Regions from separate parts of the Homo sapiens genome. Here all the other regions are linked to region 2. Evidence: fine-mapped expression QTL. A gene starts in region 2. Each other region holds a variant in brackets. All regions are shown on one strand. Distances are between the middles of the regions. Region 1 overlaps KCNK15-AS1 (KCNK15 and WISP2 antisense RNA 1). Region 2 holds the start of DBNDD2 (dysbindin domain containing 2). Region 3 overlaps TP53TG5 (TP53 target 5). Region 4 holds the start of TP53TG5 (TP53 target 5). Region 5 overlaps LINC01620 (long intergenic non-protein coding RNA 1620).

Evidence for each region.
Region 1: its variant is fine-mapped to the expression of DBNDD2 in amygdala (GTEx, PIP above 0.99).
Region 3: its variant is fine-mapped to the expression of DBNDD2 in tibial artery (GTEx, PIP 0.97).
Region 4: its variant is fine-mapped to the expression of DBNDD2 in whole blood (TOPMed, PIP 0.94).
Region 5: its variant is fine-mapped to the expression of DBNDD2 in gastroesophageal junction (GTEx, PIP 0.97).

Annotation. Positions count from the first base shown.
Region 1 is chr20:44,735,145-44,740,246 of GRCh38, forward strand. KCNK15-AS1 (KCNK15 and WISP2 antisense RNA 1) reads right to left here. Exons shown (of 5, transcript NR_132377.1): 2 at 3,676-3,790; 3 at 2,367-2,426. Among named protein-coding and RNA genes, the nearest start is that of KCNK15, 8.2 kb to the right of the region's middle. The variant G/A (reference allele first, on the strand shown) is at 2,304.
Region 2 is chr20:45,405,967-45,411,067 of GRCh38, forward strand. It overlaps DBNDD2 (dysbindin domain containing 2), which reads left to right and starts at 2,323. Exons shown (of 3, transcript NM_001048225.4): 1 at 2,323-2,640; 2 at 2,835-2,972; 3 at 3,966-4,641. The coding sequence starts at 2,502. The coding sequence ends at 4,174. It overlaps SYS1-DBNDD2 (SYS1-DBNDD2 readthrough (NMD candidate)), which reads left to right. Exons shown (of 6, transcript NR_003189.2): 4 at 2,494-2,640; 5 at 2,835-2,972; 6 at 3,966-4,644. LOC107985404 (a long non-coding RNA gene) reads right to left here and starts at 1,923. Exons shown (of 5, transcript XR_007067608.1): 1 at 1,783-1,923; 2 at 148-466. It overlaps LOC107985405 (a long non-coding RNA gene), which reads right to left. Exons shown (of 2, transcript XR_001754640.2): 2 at 4,609-5,101. RefSeq lists an enhancer at 911-1,460.
Region 3 is chr20:45,369,506-45,374,607 of GRCh38, forward strand. TP53TG5 (TP53 target 5) reads right to left here. Exons shown (of 5, transcript NM_014477.3): 5 at 3,052-4,506. The coding sequence ends at 4,402. All of the region lies in intron 3 of SYS1-DBNDD2 (SYS1-DBNDD2 readthrough (NMD candidate)), which reads left to right. It also overlaps a transcript of SYS1 not described here. Among named protein-coding and RNA genes, the nearest start is that of TP53TG5, 6.3 kb to the right of the region's middle. RefSeq lists an enhancer at 3,838-3,897. The variant G/A (reference allele first, on the strand shown) is at 3,170.
Region 4 is chr20:45,377,038-45,382,139 of GRCh38, forward strand. It overlaps TP53TG5 (TP53 target 5), which reads right to left and starts at 1,288. Exons shown (of 5, transcript NM_014477.3): 1 at 1,152-1,288; 2 at 502-576; 3 at 175-305. The coding sequence starts at 1,199. The region is part of intron 3 of SYS1-DBNDD2 (SYS1-DBNDD2 readthrough (NMD candidate)); the gene reads left to right. The variant G/C (reference allele first, on the strand shown) is at 2,650.
Region 5 is chr20:44,456,633-44,461,734 of GRCh38, forward strand. All of the region lies in intron 2 of LINC01620 (long intergenic non-protein coding RNA 1620), which reads right to left. Among named protein-coding and RNA genes, the nearest start is that of LINC01620, 6.2 kb to the right of the region's middle. The variant C/T (reference allele first, on the strand shown) is at 2,148.

The DNA.
Region 1 (5,102 bases), 670 kb before region 2:
TGCTGCGCTGCCTACTCCAGATGGCTGATGTGGCATCTGTGGAATGCAAAGTCTCCCTGAGTCTTTTCCCCACGTCAGGAAGATTGCTTAAGTATCAGACTGCAGTTGCCAGAATAAATCTAAATTTATTTTAAATGTTCATGTCAACAGTCATATTTGTAATGTTTTTTTCCTTAAAAAACATGTTGTACATATGGATGTTCGTCATTGCTATTTATACCTTTATGCCTGTCTTTATTAGCTAGGGTAAACCAGATCCCAGTAATAAATAAACCCGAAATCCAGTGGCATACCAAGGGACCAGGGGAGGTGGTAGTGTTACAGGAAGGGGGTCCCAGTCCAGACCCCAAGAGAGGGATCTGGATCTTGGAACTCGCGTAAGAAAGAACTCAAGGCGAGTCCATAAAGTGAAAGTGAATTTATTAAGAAAGCAAAGGAATAATGCTCCATAGACAGAGCAGCCCCGAGGGCTGCTGGTTGCCTATTTTTATGGTTATTTCTTGATGATATGCTCAACAAGGGATAGATTATTAATGCCTCCCCTTTTTAGACCATATAGGGTAACTTCCTGACGTTGCCATGGCATTTGTAAACTCTCATGGCGCTGGTGAGAGTCTAGCAGTGAGGACGACCAGCGGTCACTCTCGAGGCCATTTTGATTTTGGTGGGTTTTAGCCGGCTTCTTTATTGCAACCTGTTTTATCAGCAAGGTCTTTACGACTTGTATCTTGTGCCAACGTCCTATCTCATCCTGTGACTTAGAATGCCTTAACCATCTGAGAATGAAGCCCAGCAGGTCTCAGCCTTATTTTACCCAGCCCCTATTCAAGATGGAATCGCTCTGGTTCAAATGCTTCTAACAGTGGGAGTTTTCTCCCTGGTGAGAAGGAATATTTTAACACTAATGTTTAGAATTGCTGGCATGTGGTGATAATAAAAAGCAGATTGACTTTTAGACCTTTTCATTACTGTTTTAAAATTCTGTACAGACAATGTACCCCTTTATCACCTGCATCCACTTCCACTACCACCAGCGCCATTGGAACGTCACTGCCAAAATGCTTACTAGCCAAAGCACAAAGTCTATGTGTGTTACGTAACATTCCCTATGGGTGCTTCTGCTTGGTGGGCTCCCCTACATGGTGATACAGGGACTCAGGATCCTTCGTCTAGGGCTCCTCCTTCCTCTCTCCTTCTCCCAATCATCTGCATCCAGTAAGGCCTGACTAGGTCAGGGAGGAAGCCCAGACAATCAATTCATGGAGAGCCGGAGCCAGGAAGTTGCACACAGAACTTCTGCTCTTGTCTCATTGGTTAAAACTCAGTCACATGGTCACACCCAACTGCAAGGGAGGCTGGGAAATGTAGTCTATCTACATTTCATGTGCTATCACAAACATCCATCAGTCTTTGCCACAATGTCTTAAATATTTCACAATAAAGAAATGTCAAATGTTTGTGTTAGACAAGAATGTGGATAAACTACCTTCTTTCTCTAGTATAGGAATTTTACCATGGGACAGATAGTCATGGTTCAAAGTCATGAAACAAATGATCTCAAATTTTATACTGTCCCAGTGACCAGAATGCTGAGTTCACAGAGCTTTCCACTGCCTCTTTCTCCTACTCAGATGATTTCCCTTCTATCTGAGCACATGCCTAGACTACATTTCCCAGTCTCCTTTGCAGCTAGGTGTGGCCATGTGACTCAATCTTTACCAATAAAATATGAAGGGAAGTGACATGTGCCACTTCCTGACCTGAGCCTTACAAGTTTGTGTGCCTGCTTCGAGTTCTTTCCCCTTCCCATTGGCTGCAACCCTCTGTGCCCCAGCTTCCACTGTGCAGACAGGAATAGTATCCTGGGGCAGTGCAGTGATTCTCAAACTTGCAGAATCACTCGGAGGGCCTGTAAAGACACAGATGGCTGGGCCCCACACCTAAAGTTCCTGATTCGCTAGGCCCAGGATAGGGCTGGAGAATTGACATTTCTAACAAGTTCCCAGGTGCTGTTGAAGCTGCCAGTCCAAGGACCACTCTGGAAACCACTGTCCTAAGGAATGATGGGGTGCACTATGAAGAAACCTGGGTCTCTGAGTGGCCCCCTGGATCATAGCTGCCTTGACAACTTGGCAGCGCAGTTGAAAAAGAAGTAAACTTTTGTCTTCTTTAAGTCACTGCACTGCTGGGCATCTTTGTTACAGCAGCTTAACCTTTAACCACACTAACAGAGTTGGGATTCTGTCACTTGCAACCAAGAGTCCTGACCAATACAGACTCGAAGCTTAACTTCAGTAAGTTCC[G/A]CCACTAAGAGAGTTTGCTTCTTTTTTCCTGCTTATCCCAAACCCGCAGTTTTTTCATCTTACCTTAGTATTGACCAGGATTCCGGAAGGAGATATGCACATGCACCAAGCCCTAGGAAGGACCTGGAAGGTGGAGAATATTCCACTATGCTACAATCTTTTCAAACATTAACATTATTATTATCTCAACTACTTGCCTGAGTCCCTTGAACACAGGCCCAGCTCTGAAATGTAGTTGCCATGGGGTCTGGAAACAGCCCAGACACCCACTCCTCATTGGTGGGTACCTCTTGTGCTGTTTTCCTGGCTCTAGGTGAACATTCACACCGTGCAGGTAAAGAAGGGTGCAAATGCAGGTTATGGGGACTCGTGTGGCTCAAGCTCTACCTTGGAATGTGTGGCTCAGAGCCCTGGGGATCAAGCTTGGCAGTGGGAGAGGAGGTGGGGGGAAGGTTCCATGGCCCTGAGAGAAGAGGACTCACAACATCTTCAGGGCTCTGTTTCCTGAGGTTAATGGGCCCTCAGCAAAGCACTTAGAGGGTGTTTCTGTGTTTCTCTTGCCTACTCCTCTGCCATGAATAGGTGGGCCACAATGGGGTCCATGTAGAATAGTGTTTTTCCTATGGTCATTTAGCAAGTCTTGGACAGAGTCCATTTGAGAACCAGGCCTCCTGTCTCCCAGCCCAGGGATTTAAAAAATTATCCCATCCTAGTTTGGAAAGCAGCCATGTCCCGAACTGCAATATGGGCTCTGGCCTTTGGAGGACCAGAGAGAGCCTAGCAATGGCCTCTTCCACGTCCTGAAGAAAGTACTGCAGGGGGTGGGCACAGTGACTCACGCCTGTAATTCCAGCACTTTGGGAGGCTGAGGAGGTTGGATTGCTTGAGCTTAGGAGTTCGAGACCAGCCTGGGCAACATGGCGAAACCCCATCTCTACAAACAATACAAAAATTAGCCAGGCATGATGGCTTGTGCCTGTAGTCCCAGCTACTTGGGGGGCTGAGGTGGGAGGATAGCTTGAGCCCAGGAGGCAGAGGTTGCAGAGCCAAGATCGCACCATTGCACTCCAGCGTAGGTGACAGAGTGAGACCCCTGTCTCCAAAAAAAAAAAAAAAAAAAAAAAAAAAAAGTTCCTGCAGGCATGATATGGTGGTATTTGACACCTCTTGTCCGTCCTTGGCTTTGGGGCTTTAGCTGTAAATCTGAGACAATAGGAAAAGTCCCATTTAAGAGTCTCTTACATGTGTGTCATTTAACTTAATCCTCATGACAGCCTTATATGGGAAGTGTATTAAAGAGGGTAATGCTAGTTGCTATAGCGAACAGCCCCCAAGATCTAGTGGCTTAACACAATAGCAGTTTATCTCTTACCTAATATTGCAAGGCAGGTGTTTGTTCCTGGTTGGAGAGATTTCCTTTACGTGGTGATCCGGGTGACTTCCATGTTGCAGCTTTGCCATCCTGCAGGGCTTTGGGTTCTCTGCATCTAGACAGACAGGGATGGAGAAGCTCACCTACTTCCTCGAGGCCCTGCCTGGAAGTGACACTCACCACTCCTGCTCACATTCCATTGGTGGAGACTAGTCACATGGTCACACCTAGATGCCAAGGATGCTGGGAAATGTAGTCTCCAGTGGGGCACATGTCTTCCAGAGACAATTCCACACTATGGAGTCTTTTCCAGAGTTAGTGCACAAAGTCCTCTTTACTAATCTGTTTAACCAGCTTGCCAGGCTAACCAGCGCTCTCCATGCTCTCTGAATGCAACGCTACTGCCCCAGGCATACTGAATGCTTATGGCTAGTAAGCCATTCCCTAGGCCCCTGGTCGCCTTTGGCTCTTGGCCGTAGAAGAGCATGCTTGCCAACAGTCTGCTGGGTCTGTTCCCAAATCAGTTTGCACACAGCACACTTAATATTGTAACAATGTAACTGAATTAGATATTCCATAAACTGATGAAATATGAGTGCAAAAGGAAGAGATTTGTTTTTCTGAAAACTGAATGAAGACTGGTTGCTAAAAAGAATACTGTCAAATTAGGTGTGGAAGAAACAACTACAAAACATCTAGAAAAAAAAAAACCCACAAGAATCTAGAGGGATTCTGCACTCCAGTTGCCATACAAATGTCTGCAGGTCCTTGCCCCACTTTAAAGAAACCAGAATTGGCCAGGGACGGTGGCTCATGCCTGCAATCCCAGCACTTTGAGAGGAATTACAGGTATGAGCCACTGTGCCCAGCCCCTGCAGGACTTTCTTCAGGACATTATACCAGCTTTCCTTCCCTCAAAAGCCTCCTTAGCCTATATAAAGCGAAGATTATGAATAAATGTTAAGGGCAGGTTTCTGGAACCAGACAGCCTGTATTTGAATCAAGCAGTCCTCCTGCCTCAGACTCTCAAGTATCTGGGACAATAGGCTCACACCATGGCACCTGGCTTGAAATTTCAACTTAATTCAATTTTAATTAATTTAACTATAAATGGCCACATATGGTTACTGGCTAAGGCATTGGGTAGGGAAGCTCTGTGTTACACTAACATTAGCACATGTATTTCTTCACGTCTCAGGCTCTTTCTTTGCCTTGACTCTTTCTAGCCCATGATGTCTTGTGAAATGCAAGTCCTGCCCCCGTTGATTCAGACAGACAGCTCTTGATTCCAACATATTATGCTGACTGGGAAAGGGAGGGGTGGTCCTTGGCAGGAGGAAAAGGGACAGGCCTCTGTCTGTAGCAACTGGGCTCAAATTGCCATATGGCAGCAACTGCCACCTGTAACACTGCCATGCTAAGCTCCT
Region 2 (5,101 bases):
CTTCCAGCTCTGACCCGCCCGGCCGGCCCGGCGCCCACCCCGCCCAGTGTGCTTGGTAGGTTGGGCGGCGGCTCTGTCTAGTCCCAGAGCCAGGAATCAGGGGCAGCCGGGCGAGTCCCAGGGCAGGGGTCCTCCGCCGCCTTGCACCTGCCCTGCTGGGCGGCACCGGGTCAGTGCCCTGCCCCCTCCTGCGGGTCCCAACTCTCTCTTTCCCATCGTGCGTCCTCTGGAGAAGTGCGCGCGTGTAAGTGTGGCGAGTGTGGCCAAGGGTGCCGGAGGCAGGGTTCGGGTGCGTAGTCGTTGCGTGGGCGCTGCCCAAAAGGCGCAGAGCATCAAGTGTGCGTGGGCAGAACCGGCGCGGGCGCCCGCCGCGGGTCTGCGCGGGGCGGGGGCGCAGCAAGTGCATCCGAGCGAGCGGAGACTAGCGCACCGGCGTCGGTGGCGAGGGTGGTGCAGAGGAGTCCGGCTGGGCGGAGGGAGGAAGGATGGGTGCGGGTAACTTTTTGACCGCCTTGGAAGTACCAGTAGCCGCGCTCGCAGGGGCTGCCTCCGACCGCCGGGCGAGCTGCGAGCGAGTGAGCCCGCCACCGCCCCTCCCCCACTTCCGCCTCCCGCCTCTTCCTCGTTCCCGGCTCCCAGGGCCCGTCGGTCCCCCGGGAGCCCTGGAGGCGCAGCCCCACCCCGGCCGGCGCGGCTCGCTCCCACGCCCCCGCCGCGGCCTCGCTGGAGCGGACGGACTGAGTCAGAGGGGGCGCCAGCGCTGCAGGTAGGGGCTCCGGCGGCGGTGGGCGCAGGTGCCGCGGTGGACCGCGGAGGGGACCGGAGCACGAGGGGAACGGCCTTGGGGGAGCGCCCTCCCCCCGTCCTCCGCCGACGCCTCGTGTCCCTTTTTAGGGAATTTTTTCCCTCTTGCTGGCTCCAGTGCGGGTGGGGCTGAGACCGAGAGGGAGTTCTCCATTTCGCTGGCTCCTGCCCGGCCCCTGGCAGCCTCCTGCCCCCAAATCTCTTCACCCCCTTTCCAGTACCTATAGGTCGCGTAAACAACTCCCTTTCTCCAGCTCTGGGCTCCGCGGCCCCCCGGGGGACAGCTCCTTCAGTCTCGTGAGATCGGTGGGGTTAGGGGGAGGGGAAAAGAGAGGGGGTGTCCCAGAGCCCCTGGCCCCCGTCAGCTCCCCCACCTTGGCCTCTCCCTCCCCCTCCTCGCTGCTGGAGCACAGGCTCCAGGGGCCCTGGGTATTTTTAGCGTTGTGACCTGGGCGGCAGCTCTAAGAGCCTTTCCCGGGAATCGGCGTCAGCGCCTCGCTCCTCCGCCGCCAGCCCGCGGCCGCACGGTCTCCCCAGACTTCCGTGGCCCTGCCTTGGCCAGTCGGGGTTGGGTCCCTCTCCACCTCTGTGGCGCCCGTGGAGCTGGCCAGGGTCTGGGATACGCTGGGTGCAGATGAGGTGGGGAAGGCAGTCTGCGGAGGATGACGTCTGATCCTCAAGCTAGAAACTCCCTTGCCTCTGGTGATGGGCTCAGAGCAGAACGCCGGGAAGGAGATGAGCGAATGGGAATGAATGCACCGACCTGGGCTGGCCCATAGCCTCAGTGCTCTGGCAGGGTCTCAGCTTCTCAGCCCTAGGGGTCAGGAGGCCTGCTCTGAACTGGACCCAGAACCCGCCTTTCCAATTGCTCCTCACTGACTAATGGGGAGATAAGTCAGTGAGATGTGTCCCAGGAGGGGGACGCATAAAGAGCTGTTGGAGTTCAAAGGAAAGATGGTAGTCTCCTAAATAGCTCACCTTCACAAGCAGGGTCTTGTATTTGAGGCAGGTAGGTTGGTTATGCCATTTTCAGATGGGGAGACTAAGACCAGAAAGGTGATTTCCTTAGGGGCAGAGCCTAGTCTGGAAGTCAGGCCTGTGACTTCAGAGCAAGGGTTTGGGGTAGATGGCACATGCGTGTGTACGTGTTTGTGTGGGTGGAGAGAAAAGGAGGGGCGCGGGAGGAGTTGCTTTAGCCTTTGTCTGGGTTTTGAAGGATGGGAAGGGGTGGGCTGCAGCACTGGAGGAAGGGAACCCTCCACCCTGAGATCTCTGTCTCTATCCTATCCTGTCCCTGGCCTTCTGAGGCAAGCGGGGCCAATTAAGGGGAAAACGTACCTCCTCCATTTGTGCTGAACCAATCCCTCCAACCCCTCTCAGGAGGGCATGATATGGAGAGTTGGGCATTGGCTGTGTTCCCTGAATACAGAGTATCTCTCTTGTGGTGCCTGGAACTGGCATCCCCTTTGTGGAGCTTAGGGCAAGCCCCGCCTCTGCATGAGACTTGGTTTGTGGGACACACTTGGTTTCAGGGAAGGGGAAAGAGGTCACCAAGGGCAGAGGTGTCCAGGCCGGAGCCAGGGGCCCCACTGTTGGGATGCTGGCTGCAGTGGGGCGCCCCAAGCCCAGGTCCCCTCTGTCTTCTCTTTCGACTTTGCAGCTGTACTTGTTTTGCTCCTCTACCCGCAGGAGCTGACATGGACCCAAATCCTCGGGCCGCCCTGGAGCGCCAGCAGCTCCGCCTTCGGGAGCGGCAAAAATTCTTCGAGGACATTTTACAGCCAGAGACAGAGTTTGTCTTTCCTCTGTCCCATCTGCATCTCGAGTCGCAGAGACGTAAGTCCCAAGTCCTGAGAAGAGGGACTGGGGTAGGGTAGGGAGGATGTCCTGTGGGTCCTGAATCTTGTGGCACTCTCTCCCCTCTGGTTTTCTTGGCCCTCTATGCTTCTAACTTGGGACCTGACATGTAACTCTCACTGTCCTGGTGTGCAGCTTGGGTCCTCCTGACTTGCCCACTTCTTGATCCGCAGCCCCCATAGGTAGTATCTCATCCATGGAAGTGAATGTGGACACACTGGAGCAAGTAGAACTTATTGACCTTGGGGACCCGGATGCAGCAGATGTGTTCTTGCCTTGCGAAGATCCTCCACCAACCCCCCAGTCGTCTGGTATGCCCCTCTGCTTTGGGGACTTCAGTGCCAGTCAGCCAGAGCCGGATGTCAGGCTCTGAAACGAGGCTACAAGGCTGGGCTGGGGAAGTACACAAGTAAGGGCTGGAAGTGGGTGTTTCTACCAATGAAACAGCTGCCTGTTCTGATTTTAGGGAAGTTGACCCTGAGGGAGAACTGGGTTACACATCTCTAATCCAAAATTCTGGGAACGGTCAATCTCTTCTTTAATTTTACATTTGTTATATTAATATAATTAGTCACTATAATTAAAATAATGTAAAATTGTAATTTTTATATTTGGCAACTTAAGTAGTTTTAGTCATTATAATGATATTAATATGTATTGAGTACTTTAGTAGGTTCCAATACTGTACTAAAGTACTTTACATATATTATCTCAATCCTTACAACGTCCTGTCAGGGTAGGTGATATAATCTCTATTTTATAAGCAGGAAATTAGGCTCAGAGAAGTTAAGTCACATTGTAGCCAGAAGGTAGATAAACTGGAATTCATGTCTGTCTGACTCCAAAGCCCATATGCTTAACTTGTAAGATAGATATTCTTTTAATTAAAACTGCTACTATTTATTGATGGCTTACTATGCCAGACATTTTATAAGCATTCTTAGGTTTTATTCCCAAAACCCTTTGGGGATGTAGGTATCCCTTTTATTTTGCAGAGGAGGAACAGAGTCCTTGAAAGGGAAAGTGACTTGCTCAAAGCCACTCAGCAGCAATAAGTGATGTAGGTGGAACTTGAACTCTTGCCATTCATTGACCTGACTGTAGATCCCAGACATGGTGTAATGACGTGGAAGGAGCTGGCAGTCAGGAGATGGTGATCTTAATCCTGGCTCTTTGCTGGATTGGCAAAGTCACTTTGGACAAGTCTCTGCCCCACTGTGGACTTTAGTTACTCCTGGCCAGATAATCTTTAAGAGTTCTCTGAAGCCCTGTTTGTGGCCTGACCAGCTTTTCTCTCTGGGCAGGGATGGACAACCATTTGGAGGAGCTGAGCCTGCCGGTGCCTACATCAGACAGGACCACATCTAGGACCTCCTCCTCCTCCTCCTCCGACTCCTCCACCAACCTGCATAGCCCAAATCCAAGTGATGATGGAGCAGATACGCCCTTGGCACAGTCGGATGAAGAGGAGGAAAGGGGTGATGGAGGGGCAGAGCCTGGAGCCTGCAGCTAGCAGTGGGCCCCTGCCTACAGACTGACCACGCTGGCTATTCTCCACATGAGACCACAGGCCCAGCCAGAGCCTGTCGGGAGAAGACCAGACTCTTTACTTGCAGTAGGCACCAGAGGTGGGAAGGATGGTGGGATTGTGTACCTTTCTAAGAATTAACCCTCTCCTGCTTTACTGCTAATTTTTTCCTGCTGCAACCCTCCCACCAGTTTTTGGCTTACTCCTGAGATATGATTTGCAAATGAGGAGAGAGAAGATGAGGTTGGACAAGATGCCACTGCTTTTCTTAGCACTCTTCCCTCCCCTAAACCATCCCGTAGTCTTCTAATACAGTCTCTCAGACAAGTGTCTCTAGATGGATGTGAACTCCTTAACTCATCAAGTAAGGTGGTACTCAAGCCATGCTGCCTCCTTACATCCTTTTTGGAACAGAGCACGGTATAAATAATAAACTAATAATAATATGCCAACCATTCGACTTCATTTTTCATATTGCAAAGATATCAAACCCACTACATGTCTTTAGCTCTCTAACCGATCCCATATTCCTATCACTCACTCATTCCATTTATTCAAGAAATGTTTATGGAACACCCATGCTAGGCATCTGGAATACAGTTTTGAGCAAGACAGGCTGTACTGTATACCTGCCTTCATAGAGTTTACTGTTTATGGAGGAGAAAATCAAGTAAATACTACAATTCACAGTGTAATAAATAGCATGATGAGGAACTACTCTGGTACCAGAAAATAGGGGCATGTTAACCTAGTTTCTATGGTCACTGAAGAGCTGTTTTTAGCTGAAGGACGATTGGGAGTTAGCCAGGCACAGTCCGTAAGCCAGGCAGAACGAGCAGCTCGTGAAGACTTTAAACGGAGAGAGCATATCCTTGAGGAGCTAAAAAACATTGCGTTTGGCTGAATTGTTGG
Region 3 (5,102 bases), 36 kb before region 2:
TAAATACCGAGGATGAATAGTACTTTATAAACATTACTAGCTTTCTAAGAAAAGCTGATATGCAGTACATTAAATATAGCCAGAGATTTCCTTTTTTTTTTTTTTTTTTTTTTTTGAGGCAGGGTCTTACTCTGTCACCCAGGCTGGAGTGCACTGGTGTGATCTTGGCTCATCATAGCCTCAACCTCCCAGGCTCAATGATCCTCCTGCCGCAGCCCCCCAAGTAGCTGGGACTATAGGCACATGCCACCACGCCCAGCTAATTTTTGTATTTTTATTTTTATTTTTATTTTTTTAGAGACAGGGCTTTGCCACTTTGCCCAGGCTGGTCTCGAACTCCTGGGCTCAAGAGATCCACCTGCCTCGGCCTCCCAAAGTGCTGGGATTTTACAGGTGTGAGCCACCAAGCCCAACTGGCCTTTTTTTTTTTTGAAACAGAGTTTCACTCCGACTTCATTACCCAGGCTGGAATGCAGTGGCCCAATCTCAGCTTACTGCAACCTCTGCTTCCTGGGTTCAAGCAATGCTCATACTTCAGCCTCCCAAGTAGCTGGAATTACAGGTTGGCACCATCATGCTTGGCTAATTTTTGTATTTTTCATAGAGACGGGGTTTCATCATGTTGGCCAGGCTGGTCTCGAACTCTTGGCCTCTCAAGTGATCCACCCGCCTCAGCCTCCCAAAGTGCTGGGATTACAGGCATGAGCCACTGTGCCCAGCATTGGCCAGAGATTTTCAGATGATCTTAGGAATGTGGGAAATCTATTTCCAAAGGATAAAGGAAGGTACCTAGATAAGAGAGTACTAGCCCACTACTGAGTTGGCATATCTCTTAACTCTCCAGGTGTCTGAAGTTGACCTCCCTTTTTCCCACCCACCACCTGAACTCTGGCCATTCAGAGAGAAAAGTGGAGACTCCTACATAGCTGATGGTCAGAATAGTTTATAACCCTTAAAGGAGGACAGGAAAGGAAAAAGGGATGTCTGGCTCAGAGGGTACTTCTAACCCCTCGCTCTAGGCAGCCCTGTCCATATCAGTGCCAAATGAGAGCCACGATGGCAGCCAGCAGACATCAGGGGGTACAATGGGAAGCTCCAGGACTCCCAGCATCCTGGAGGGTACACAGCTCAAACAGTCTCCCCTGGACAGGAATCCCCTTGGACTCCTTCCTCAGCAACTCCCAGGTCAGAGTAGCTTCCTTCTGCCAGCCCCAGAAGGCAGTCAGTGCACAGGTATGCAACACCTCCTTGTACCGGCAGCCCAGGGACCACGGAGTCTCAGAGGTAGGGCCCTGGGGACCTAGGGCAGAGGAGTAGGGATGGAATCAAGGTACAAGAGAACTCCTCTGTGGAGAGATTAAAAACCACTGTCTTAAGGTTTTCTGTTGTAAAGTAATAAAGGGTGGTAGAAATAGCATTGAGGCAGGAGGGAGTAGAGGGAGCTGAGGGTTTTAATCCCTGCCCTGCCGCTACCTGGGCAAGTCACAGTCATAGGTCCAATTCTGGAAGGCTTTAGAGAGCTGCAGTGGAGTGCAAAGTCCTGGAGTCCCATTACTAGCTGTGAGATCTTGGGTAAGCTATGTTACCTCCCTTACCTAGATTTCCTCATATGTAAAATGAGGGTAATAATGGTACTTATTTCCCTGGGTTTTGTTTTGTCTTGTTTTGTTTTGTTTTCTGGTAGGTCAACACTTACTTCTTTAAAATGGAAAAAGTGTTCCCTCCCTGGTTTTATTGTGAAGATGCAATAAGATGTCACGTGTAAAGCGCCTAGCCCAGCCCCTGGCACGTAGGAAGTGATCCATAATTCTAGACAATTATTAGGCTACCGTCCCCCCTATCCATTTTACAGAACAGGGACATTTTTCTTCTGAGCCTGTGTTTTCAAATGTTGGGGGATAGGCTTGCCAGTCCTCTAGGTACCACTACCAAGTATTGAGCTCCTATCTGGCATGTACTGCAAAGTGATTTATGTGTATTCTTACTCAGTCCAATAAGGTAAGCACTACTATTTCCCCCATTTTGCAGACAAAGAAACAGAGGATTGGGAGTAAACAACTTTTTCCCCATTACAAAGTTGGTAAGAAGCTAGGCCTGTCTGCCTCATCTGCTTTTCACGTTCCAGTTATGTTTATGTGTGATCCAGACAATTGTGAGACGGACAGTCTTAGGGATCTAAATGCCATATTAGCAAAAGGTTGTGAATGTAAACGTACGTTTGGCTTGTTAACAAGCAGCTAGTTCCATAAAGGTGAGTAGTTAGGTAGCTGCTGATAAGTGAGAAATGGAGCCGGGACTGACTGGCCACAGGGCTTTATTATGATGGCCGTGGTGTGGCGTGGGAAAAGGCCAAACATTTGTTCAATGCCCCACAAACTGGCTTCTCCTACATCAAGCTTGATTTGCTTAAACCCCCCTGAAACAGACATTAGTATCACTATTTTATAAACATGAAATAGGCTCAGAGAGGTCATGTGACTTCTAAAAAGTCACTCAATATAAAATCAGATTCAAACACTTCAATTTTTTCCCAGTTAACTGTTAAGCAGCCATTTCTAGGGTGGCCTCCTCCCCAAATCTGTGTTACTGGGCCCAGAGGAGGAGCTTTAGGTTGAAATGGTTAAACAAAGAGAGGGTGGTAGTGGGGAGACCCTGGTTGTGGAATTGTGGGAGGCAGGTGGCCAGAGGCCTAAGTGCCGGGGCAGGTGGGATGAGGTGGAAGGATGTACTGCTGGGATTCCCTCACTCCCAGACCTGCCCCTTGCTGCCCTGGCCATGCTGGGTCCCCGCCTTCGTATACAGCCCTCCCATATATTCAGTGGCGTTCCCAGTGGGCAACTGGGGCCCAACTCCGGCTCTCTGGAGCAAAGTGGAAGTTGCCAGTCTCACTCAGGCCCAACCCAATCCAGCCTCCACTTGGGGCTCCCTGGGCAGGCCCCCACGAAGGCTAGTGCAAGGGAGCTCCCCAGAAAGGGTCAGATTTTTTAGCTGGGAGGGCGCTGTCTTGACTGCCCGCTGACAGCGCACTCAGGACAGAAGTTCACGCAAAGGTTGATGGAATGGAAGAGTGAGTAGAGATTATTTTCGAAAGTTGATGGGATTGAAAATACCCAGCAAGGGAACTGCAAGGGAGACTGTTCAGGAAATGGGCTGGAGTGCAAGCTGGGTG[G/A]GAAGACCGCTGAAAGTGGTTACTGGGGTGGAATTTGCACGGGAATTAGCGGGGTGGTGGGGGCGGAGGTAGGCACCGACCGTAGGGGAGCTCCAGGAAGATTGCGCTGGGAGCAGGAGCTCGGGAGCACGCAGCAGCCACTATGAGGTGCTAAGCAGTCCCCGCGCTGTGGCTCCGCCCAGGCTGGTCCGCGCGGCAGCTGATGCCCAGTCTTGGTGCCCAGTAATGGTGGGGAGGAGTGTGTGAGTGGGCGGGGTGGGAGGGGGGGAGAGTCCATCCAATCGTTCTCCCTCTGTCCCAAACTGGAGATCTATCTGCATCGCTGCCCTGACCCCCAATCCCGGAGAGCTCTGTGCCCCTCGATGGCTCCACTGCTCTCCCGAGGGCGCCCACTCCATGCAGCCTGCCTCTGGGGAATATGGAGGTCTTCGTCCGGAGAAAACTCGGGCTCCCTTGGCTTTCCTCTCCCCAACGGCATGGTTAGGACCCTGTGACTCCTACCGACAGAGGGTGACCCCGGCCAGATGGGGTCGACCAGGGCTTGGGGTTGAGGTCTTCAGATTGAGGGTGGACCTGCCATGTCACCCTGGAGCAGTAGAGATGCAGTACCAGCTCCCCCTCCTGATCCGGTGCCTTCTGTGATCTGTGACCAAGGCAGGACACATTTGGAGGCCCAGCTGACATCCACTTTTTGACACCAGCCACAGTGCAATCAGTTTTTGACAATCAATTTTTGACAATCAGGTCGCAATGCACGCGCATGACCTACAGGGTGCTGGGGCTATTCCGCCTGCCTCGTGACTTCTGAGCAGGCTCTCATTTCGCCTTTTCCCTTTCTTGGGAAAATGGAATGGGGAGCAACCAGGAGCCCTTGCTCCTGCCACTTTCTAGCTGAGTGAGCCTGGGCAAGTTACTTGCTGCCTCCGCGCCGCGGTTTCCTCTTGCGAGCTCGCGGGGCGATTGTGAGGCACTTTGCACCCAGGAAGCACACGAGCGCCCTGACTTCACAGAGCGCGCCACTCAGGAGACTAGCTCGCGGAGGTGGGGGAGGGGTGCTGCTCGCTGGCTTCTTTGGTTCTAGACTGACCTTAGGGGCCTCGGGGTGGGGGTGGGGGAAGCCTGAAGTCGCGACACAGGCTCCCTCTACCGAAGGCCTCTTTCCTTCATCCTTCCCAGCCCCAGACAAACAGGCAGAGTAAGCAGTATTCGTCTTAGGTGCCATATGGAAGATCTTATTTGTAGACTCGTGAATTTCGCCACCCATTCCTCCCCTTCAGCTGATGGCGCGATCTCCACCCTCTGCTCGCACCTCTGGCTCTCGTCCAGGTCACATCAACCTGCCAGCAGAAACCTCGGTGTTAGGCGCTAAGACTGTCCCCAGGGGGCGCTGGTCGTTTGGGGAGCGGGCGCAGGGACAAGGGTGCTGTGGTGTCTGGTAGGTTGGAAATGCCTTTGCTAAAAAGGAAAAGCCTCCCTTTAAGCTAGACCCGGTGGGCACTCACCCCCTTCCTTTCGTGGGACTTTCATTCTCCCACGAAAGGGCTGCGGTATTTTCTTCTTTTTTTGCTAAGGAACTTTCTGCTCAGAGTAAATCTTTTTTTCCTTTCTTTTTTTTTAAGACAGGGTCTTGCTCTCTTGCCCAGGCTGGAGTGCAGTGGCGAAGTCACAGCTCACTGCAGCCTCGACTCCTGGGCTTAAGCGATCCTCCGACCTCAGCCTCCTGAGTAGCTGATACTACAAGCGCAAGGCACCACATCTGGCTAATTTTTAAATTTTTTGTAGAGACAGTGTCTCATTATGTTGCCCAGGATGGTCTTGAACTCCTGGCCTCAAGCAGTCTTCCTGCCTCGACCTCCCAAGGTGCTGGGATTACAGGCGTGAGCCACCATGCCTAGCCTGTTCAGAGTAAATCTTATTTGAGGCATGAATCAAT
Region 4 (5,102 bases), 29 kb before region 2:
ACAAGTCACTTCACCTCTTCAGCCTCAGCTCTCCAGCAGTAAAATAGAGTTAATAAATACCTCTCTCACAGAGGCTTTGTGAAAATTAGACTTGTTCTCTAAATGCCTTAGCACAATGCCTGTTCCCAGAAAGACGGCATTTGGGTCCATTATGGGGGCCAGGCCCCAGCTTACCCAGAGGAGATGCGGAGAATCTTTGGAACACTGAGCAGTGAATGCCAACACCTTTTGGCCAGCTTATGCAGTTCTTGGATCCGGCGGTTTGAGCTCTTGAGTAGCTTCAAGAGCGACAAGTTTTTTAACACCTGCCAGGGTCAAGAAACCAGGTAAATAGAAGCTTCAGCTTTCCTGGACAGCCTCCCTCTCCCCTGCCTGCCTCTGGCTCCGCTCAGCCAAGGGCCGGCCTGCTGGCTCCCCTGGGCCACTCAGCCTGGCAACCAGGGGCAGTACTGCATGAGTATATGAGCTTCCCCAAGCTGGGGCCAAAACAGGGCGTCTCACCGTTCTCAGACGGTTCCGCTCAATTACTTTGCTCACAGGCTGCTCTGTCTCGTCCCGCAGTTTCTCATCTTGCATCTGAGGGACAGAGGATAAGAGAGACATAAACCCAGAGGAATCAGCCAGGTGTGGTGCCTCATGTCTGTAATCCCAGCACTTTGGGAGGCCGAGGTGGGTGGCTCATTTGAGGTCAGGAGTTTGAGATGCCTGGCCAACATGGTGAAACCCTGACTCTACCAAAAAAAAAAATACAAAAATTAGCGAGGTGTGGTGGCATGCGCCTGTAGTCCCAGCTACTCAAGAGGGTGAGGCAGGAGAATCACTTGAACCCAGGAGGTGAAGGCTGCAGTCAGCTGAGATCTCGCCACTGCACTCCAGCCTGGGCGACAGAGTGAGGCACTGGAGGAATCCTCCTGAACTCCTCCATGTGCCTCTTCATTTGGCTGAGCATGGTTTGACCAATCCTAGGCTGGGAGTTTTGTCATCTTGGTCTGGGGACAGAACTGGGAGACCATTTTAACTCTCCTGACCTCCCTTCACCCTTCACCTTTTCCTTTTCTCCCATGCTGGAAAGCCCCTTTCCTTGGCATGGTGGATTCTTTGTTAAGGTCCCCTCTAGGGACTCACCCCCAGGGTCTAGTCCCAAGTCTGACCTTGGAAACCCTGCTGTTCTTGGGCCTCTTCTTTGCTGATGGACTCATGCTGGGGCTGTGAGACCTCAGAGATGAATGGAGCAACACCAGTGCCAGGCACCAACCCTGTTCCTCTCAGTTCAGCCAGCACTCAGGCTGGGCATCAGATGGTGGTGCTGGCTCTGTACCACCTGCAGCTGTGACATCACTGAAATGTGACAGTAGCAGGGCTGGGTCTCCAAGGAGTGTATGTGGCAGAGGTGAGGGGTAGAGGGTGAGAAAGAAATATAGACAATAGGCGACAGACAGCTGTGTGCATTGTCACAACCTCCCTGTGGGGTAAGAGGATTATCCCCTCTTTTTAAATGAGGAAGCCAGGGTTCAAAGAGGTTGAATAATCTACTCAAGGCCACACTAGATCTAGCCCAGCTAGATCATAGTGGGCTGGAAACCTAACCAAGGTCTGATAGTCAACCCATGAAACCAGGGATTCCCAAACCATGCTCATCCATTCAGTCATGTCGCCTGTTTTGACTGGGCGCCTGCTACATGCCAGGTGCTTTTTCTTTTCTTTCTCTTTTTTTGTTTTTTGTTTTTTGAGACAGAGTCTCACTCTGTCGCCAGGCTGGAGTGCAGTGGTGAGATCTTGGCTCCCTGCAACCTCCGCCTCCTGGGTTCAAGCGATTTTCCTGCCTCAGCCTCCCAAGTAGCTGAGACTACAGGCACCCGCCACCACGTCCGGCTAATTTTTGTATTTTTAGTAGAGATGGGGTTTCACCATGTTAGCAAGGATGGTCTCGATCTCTTGACTTTGTGATCCGCCCACCTCCACCTCCCACAGTGCTGGGATTACAGGCATGAGTCAGCGCGCCTGGCCTTGCCAGGTGCTTTTTCTAAGTGCTAGAATAACAGAAAATTCTTGCCCTCAAGCTTACATTCTAGTGGAGGGGAAACAGTGTGTGTACTTGTAAATGTTTAATAATTGGCTCTCTGAAGCAAAATGTATATGTGTTTGTATTATAAATTTTACTGATAGAAATCAACAAATAATAGAATCCTATAATACTCTTTATTGTAACTTCTATTAGTGAGTTGCTTCTTATAGTATGCTTTTCTTGGATTTTGCCTAACCCCTCCATTTATAGCCAACCTATGGTTGTAATGGATAAACAAGTATAATACCAACATTAATGTTTGTATTTTCATTTACACTAAACAGTAAGAAGAAGGTGAAAAAGTGAAACAACAGAGATATTGAAATTTAACTCATTTATCAATGATTTCATTGACCTATTTGCTGAATTAGACCATAGTTTTTGAATACTGGAGATATATTTCTCAGATTCTTTTTGTTATTTACAATCGAATAGCTATGGGCAGGACACTTGCTTATGTTTTCTCTTTTTTTGTTGTTTTTGGGGGGTCTTTTTTCAGATCTACATATGATTCATATATGATATATTTCTACTCTACAGATATACAGATATAAAGAATCCTAAGAACATAGATAATAGTAAAA[G/C]GTAGTAAAAAATAGAAAGTGACAAGTTTAAGCATTTTTCACCCTATGTTTTTAATATCACTTATTTAATTGGAAGTTGCTATCAATTACATTTTAATGATGGCCGTGCCTAACAACCAGCCTGCAGAATTCCTAGAAGTGTAACAGTAGACTTGTGAGCCCTTATGAGTTAGCCCCAGCACGCCAATGCTACATCAGATGGAAATAAGTGCCTGGAGAACAGCAACCAGGGTAAAGGGAACAGGGAGGGCAGAGGTAGAGGGTTTGGTATATTAAAAAGGTGGTCTAGGAAAGATTCACCAATAAGATGAGATTTGAGCAGACACCTGAGAGAGAGAGGGAAGAGGAGAATGAATGGTGGTGGGAGAAGATGAGGCAGAGAGGGAGTCGTGGTGGGTTAGGCAGATCACAACAGGCTGTAAAGGGCGCTGGCTGCCCTGAATCCCTGGTGCCCAGCTGGCTGCATCAGAATAGTATGAAGAGCTTGTGAAAAACATTTTTGTGGGCACCACCCCATTCAGCAGGCCAGTCAGATAACCAATCAAATGTGGGACCCACTCCACACCATTCCACTTCTAGTGGGGAGAGATGTACATGCACGGGGGGTGGGTGCTTAGCTCTGAACGGAGGGGTGAGGGGCCAACCCTACCTAGGCTGTGGGACAGCTTCTCACATATAAATATCCTTTCTTATTCAAGTGAAGGTTAGGTAGTGGGTTAAACTGCTGCTGTGGCCTAGGAAAGAAAGCAATGTGGTAATTTGGCAAGGAAGACACAGAGGGTGCACCCTCTCTCTCTCCTGTCTACCCCCATACTCCTTGGCTGCTCTGCCTGCTCAGACATACCCCTCCTTGCACACAATTTCAGCTCTGATCAACTGGACTTCACTGAACAATGCTGCTCTGAGGCCCTGGTGCCTGGTGGGCTGTATCAGAATCACCTATACTCACTACTCAACTCCTGAGCTTCCAGGGCTGGGGAATCACTGTGTGCTAGGCACTAAGGGACAGCAACATTATAGGCAGAGCATGCCTCTGAGTTCACAGGCCAAGGGGATAGGTACCCCAGAAGGTAGACTCCTCAAGGGCAGGGATTTGTGTCCGTTTTATTCATTGATAAGCCACCAGATCCTAGAACAGTGCCTGGTGGACAATGGGTGCCCAAAAAGTATTTTTTGAAAAATGAAATAAATAGCATGATACGGGTAATACTGAGGGTTGTAGGAGCACAGAGGTGGAGCCTCCCAACCCAGCCTGAGGATGTCAGGGGATCTTCCTAGAGATGGTGAGGAGGAATGAAGGATGAGTAGATGTTGGCCAAGCATAGCGGTATGGGGCAGGTCGAGGGAGGTGGGCAGAGCATTCTCAAAAGAGGGAACTTAAAGAATATGAGTGTGGAATGGAATTATGTTGTACATTGGATGTTGCTAGATTAGAAAGCAGTAGCCAAGAGTGGCAGGGGTGAAAACTGGAGAAGTGGGTAAAGAGACCTACCCAATGACACACAGCTGGTAAGCCTTGTGGACTAAATCCAAGACTCTTGAATGAAAACCTCCACTCTTTTTTTAAAAAAAAAATATGGCATAATAAGATATGGATAACACAAAATTTACCTTCTAACCATTTTTGTTTTTGTTTTTGAGATATAGTTTCACTCTGTCGCCCAGGCTGGAGTGCAGTGGCGCAATCTTGGCTCACCACAACCTTCACCTCCTGCATTCAAGTGATTCTCGTGCCTCAGCCTCACCAGTAGCTGGGACTACAGGCACACATCACCACGCCCAGCTAATTTTTGTATTATTAGTAGAGACAGGGTTTCACCACGTTGGCCAGGCTGGTTTCAAACTCCTGACCTCAAGTGATCTGCCCACCTCGGCCTCCCAAAGTGCTGGGATTATGGGCATGAGCCATCGCACTCAGCCCTAACCATTTAAAAAAGTAGTTGGGTGACATTAAGTACCTTCTCTTTGTACAACCATCATGGATATCCATCTTTAAACTTTTTTTATCCTATGGAATTGGATCTCTGTATTCCATTAAATAATAACTGCCCATTTTTACCTCCCCCAGCCCGTGGCAGCCATTGTTCTACTTCCTGTCCCTATAAATTTGACTACTCTAGGAACCTCATATAAGTGGACTAATACAATATTTGTCTTTTTTTTGTGACTGCCTTATTTCACTTAACATGTCTTCCATGTTGTAGCATGTGTCAGAATTTCCTTCTCTTGTCCGGGCACGGTGGCTCATGCCTGTAATCCTAGCACTTTGGGAGACCGAGGCAGGTGGATCACCTGAGGTCAGGAGTTCGAGACCAGCCTGGCCAACACGGTGAAGCCCCATCTCTACTAAAAGTACCAAAAATAGCCAGGCATGGTGACGGGCACCTATAATCCCAGCTACTTGGGAGGCTGAGGCAGGAGAATCACTTGAACTTGGAGGGTGGAGGTTGCAG
Region 5 (5,102 bases), 950 kb before region 2:
GGAAGCTGAGGCAGGAGAATCGCTTGAACCCGGGAGGCAGAGTTTGCGGTGAGCCGAGATCGCACCATTGCATTCCTGCCTGGGCAACAAGAGTGAAACTCCGTCTCAAAAACAAAACAAGACAAAACAAAACAAAAGGACCTAAGGCACAGAGAGTTTGAGTGACTTGCCTAAGGTCACACAGCTAAGAAGCAGCCAAGCCTCAGGGCTTTTGTCTACTCTGAATGGCTATTCTCCACCACCCACCCCACCTTGCTGCCAACTCTCTGCTCGGACCCCAGCACGGTCTATGAATTCAAACCCTAACCCTTTCTAGAGCTTTGGGCAAAGCCAGGAAATTCCATGAAACCCCTTCAAGGCCTGGGTTCCAGTTCCCCCAACTCCAAACCAAAAGAGAGCAAAACTAGCCCTCCTTGCAAGGTGGCTGTGAGAAAACAGTGATAAAAATTAATTATAGGACTTGTATGTAATAAAAATAATTGCAGGGCTCCTGGCAAACAGCCCAGCTCTAGAGATACGGACTGATGATAGCAGGCATTTATGGCCCTGCGGCCCAGCCTTTCTGAGGCTGGGGTGATAGGAGCCGGGTCACGAGGTGGGGGTGGTCACAGGCAGGAAACTCCCAGCAGCAAGGCCTGGGCCTGTCTCTGATGCAGCCTGCACATTGGTTTCAGGGACGCTTGGAAGGACACTCCCCTAGCCTCGGGGGGTCACCATTAGTTATCCATCTGGTTGGGTCTGATGTTGCTTGCTGTTTGCCTTTCTAAAAACCTACAAACAAGGCCAGGTGTGGTGGCTCACACCTGCAATCCCAGCACTTTGGGAGGCCAAGGTGGGTGGATCGCTTGAGGTCAAGGGTTCAAGACCAGCCTGGCCGACATGGTGAAACCCCATCTCTACTAAAAATACAAAAATTAGCTGGGCATGGTGGCGGGTGCCTGTAATCCCAGCTACTCAGGAGGCTGAGGCAGGAGAATCACTTGAACCCGGGAGGCGGAGGTTGCAGTGAACCAAGATCGTGCCATTGCACTCCAGCCTGGGCCACAGAGTGAGACTCTGTCTCAAAATAAATAAATATAAAAACCTGTAAATAATGAGCACTTTACAGTGACTTCATTCATTCGTTAATTCTCAAGGCCCCAAGGATAGGCAGGGAGCAGATATTGGTGGTGGTGGAGGTGGAGCAAGGCCCAGAGGAGACAGTGGTTCATTCTTCCTCTATCCAATGGATATTTATTAAGGGCCACTCCATGCCAGGTGCCTCGCTGTTGGAAGGTAGTGACAGGGACACCAGGGACTTGCCCAGGATCACAGTGGGTGGGAGAAAGTCAGGGCTGGCCCCTGGGTCCTCAACACCAAGGACAGTAGTCTCATTGCCACAAAAAGAGACCGGAGTGGTTTGTCCCTTTGGAAAAATGACTCCCTCTTAGGATTCTAGCCTTCCCTGCAGGCATTCATAGTTAATTCTTAAAGACATCAAAAACCCATATTAGAACTCCAGTAATTTTTTTAATGAAAACGGAACCTACTTATCACAAAAGCTCAACCAATAAAGAGAAGTACAAATAAGAAAGTTCAAAATGTGGAAATTTTACTACCCAGAGAAAAATGCTCTTAGCAGAGGTAGCAGAGCTAAGTGGTCAAGAGCACAGACTCAGACCAAAGTGCCCAGGGCCACGTGCTGGCTTGCAACCTAACCATGCTAGAGTGTAGCCTCTCTGCTGCCTATTTCTTTACCTGCAAATCTGTATAATGGCAGCACCTGTCACACATAGGGTATTAAATGTTAGGAGCATGAAACAAGCTAACCATTTGTGGAGTGCTTAGCACAGCACTCAACACAGAATAAGTGCTATTTAAAGGGTTGTTCAGTGTATCCCCAGACGGGGCTCCATGCAGACATACCACACCTGCTTATGGTCTTAGGACCTGATTTTATATATGTATATACACATATATATGTATATATACGTATATATATATGTGTGTGTGTGTGTGTGTGTGTATACACACATATATACATATATGTATACACACATTTATACATATATATATACACACATATACACACTAAACAAGATATTCCAGGCACATTGCCATGTCTATAAGCTTCTTTCTATAAGTAAGAATTTGATTTAGGCTGGAGA[C/T]AGTGGCTCACACCTGTAATCCCAGCACTTTGGGAGGCCAAGGCAGGAGGATCACTTGAGCCCAGGAGTTTGAGACCAGTCTGGGCAACTTAGTGAGACCTCCCTAAGGTGTTGCAATGTGCAGCTGTAGTCCCAACTAATTGGGAGGCTGAGGTGGGAGGATTGCTTGAGCCTTGGGAGGTAGAGGTTGCAGTGAGCCAAGATTGTGCCACTGCGCTGCAGCCTGGGCAACAGAGTGAGACCCTATCTCAAAAAAATAAAAAGAATGTACGTTTCATATCGGTAGAAACTTTCTGGCTGTTTCAGGTCCTAAAAGAGTGCTTGGCACATAATAGATGTGCAAAAAAAAAAATGTTGAATGAATGAATGACTCTAATTTAGTCAATATCCATGACAAAGGGATCTGTTACATACTGGGTGTGTGACTTTGAGCAAGTATCTTCAAGCCTCTGAACTTCAGTCTTCTCCTAGGTTTCATGGGTATGACACAGATAACATGTACTGAGTTAACTCTGTGCTGGGACTAATTTGAAGTGGTTTATATGGAATATCTCCTTTAAACCATACAACAGCATTTGAGGTACTATTATTAGTCCATATTAATGTGGAGTTAGCTGAGGCATAAGGAGATTAAGTAACTTGGCTAAGGTCACAAGTAAGAGGTGGAGCTAAGAGACAAGTCCCCCAGGCCTCTGATACCACAGTGCATTCACTTACCACCACTCTATACTGCTTTTCTAAGATAACCCACCCTTGGCCACCGACAGTAGAAGGAATAAGTACATGGTGGTACATTTGTACAATAGAATACTATACAGCAATTGAGTGGCTCATGGGCTGGGAACCGTGGCTCATGCCTATAATCCCAACACTTTGGAAGGCTGAAGCAGGTGGATTACTTGAGCTCAGGAGTTTGAGACCAGCTTGGGCAATATACCAAGACCCCCATCTCTAAAAAAAAGAAAAAGAAAAAGAATACTATACAGTGATTAAGAAGAGCACATTGATGCCAGGTGCGGTGGCTCATGCCTGTAATCCCAGCACTTTGGGAGGCCAAGACGGGAGGATCATGAGGTCAGGAGTTTGAGACCAGCCTGGCCAACATGGTGAAACCCTGTCTCTACTAAAGATACAAAAAAAAAAAAAAAAAAAATTAGCCAGGCATGGTGGCACGTGCCTGTAATCCCAGCTACTTGGGAGGCTGAGACAGGAGAATCACTTGAACTTGGGAGGCGGAGATTGCAGTGAGCTGAGATCATGTCATTGCACTCCAGCCTGGGTGAAAGGGCAAGACTCCATCTCAAAAAAAAAAAAAATAAAATGACATCCTGAATTTTTATGGCAACCCTAAAGTTTGCATATGTATGATTCCATTTATGTGAAGTTCAGAAATAAGCAAAACGAATAAATGGTAATAGAATCAGGAGCATGGTTTCGTTGGGTGGGAGTAGGAGTGAGTAGAAAGGATATTAGAAAAGCTTTACATCTTGATCTGGATGGAGGTTACCTGTGTGTATACACATGTAACAATTCACCAAGCTGTACACTTAATGTTTTTACCTTTTACAACACTTGTGAATTACAACTCCATAAAAAAATATTTTTAGGCCAGTTGCGGTGGCTCATGTCTGTAATCCCAGTACTTTGGGAGGTCAAAGGCCAGCTTGGGCAACATGGCAAGACCCTGTCTCTACAGAAAAATTAAAAAATCAGCCAGGTATGGTTGTGCATACCCGTAGTCCCAGCTTCTTGGAAGGCTGAGGCAGGAGGATTGCTTGAGCCCAGGAGATCTCGGCTACTGTGAGCCGCAATTGTGCCACTGCACTCCAGCCTGGGCGACAGAGTGAGACCCTGTCTCAAAAAAAATTATATATATATACATATATATATATGTGTATATATATGTATATACGTATATATATATGTATATACGTATATATGTGTATATATATGTATATACGTATATATATAATACACAAATTTTTTAAATCCCACAGAGCGATATGCCCTATTATAAAATCTTTGATAATATTCTCTAACTGATGGGATGTTTGCAAGGTTAAAATGTGATAAAGTTTGTGACTCTCTTGCTACATTTTAGGCTCTCATAGTAAGAACTCAATGTTAAATGTAAACAGCATTGTTAAATGTAACAGCAGCATTCATACAGCATCGTTATTATCATGGCTTTTTGTATTTCTCTCTATTGCTGATAGACTGGAGCGCCCTCGAGTGTTTAATTTGTTATAGTACCTCAGTTATTACAAAGAGCACCCTAAACCCAAGTTTGTAGTCTCAATGCCAAAGGGCAATGCTTTTCTTTTCTTTCACTCCAGTGCCACATAAAAAAGGACCAAAACATGACCTCCTGGGAGCAAAGAAACACCAGGTTGCCTAAGGAGAGGTGAACTGGCCCAGGCTGGAAACAGAGCAGGTCAAATCTCACGCCCTGATCAGTGGTGGGATCACGCCTGTGAATAGCCACTGCAGTCCAAACTGTGAGACTCTGTCTCTTAAAAAAAAAAAAAGTAGCAAAATTCACATCAAATCAATGGGTCCCAAGGCCAACTCAAGCCCTGCCCATGGTCACTCCCTGAAATGTGTCAGAAGGAAGGCAGAAGGGAACACGCAGCTCTACCTCCCTTTGATGCAAGCACATTGCAAATATCATCTCGTTTCACAGGAACTCACATAATATTTGAATGTGGCATCATACTGACTACAAAAATCCTTTCATATTACTAATAGTCACAGCTAGCTTTCAGTGACAGTTTCCTGTGTCCCAGGTACCCTACTAGGAGCTAGATGTCATTGTTAGCTTTGATCTTTAAAATGGCCTGTGAGGCATATATTCTTTTGTAGCCTGCTTTTTTCCCTTCAGCAGTACGCTTTGGGCATCTTTCCATGTCAATAAATAGAGCTGGGTCGGAAGTAACTGATTCAAAGGCTGAGAAA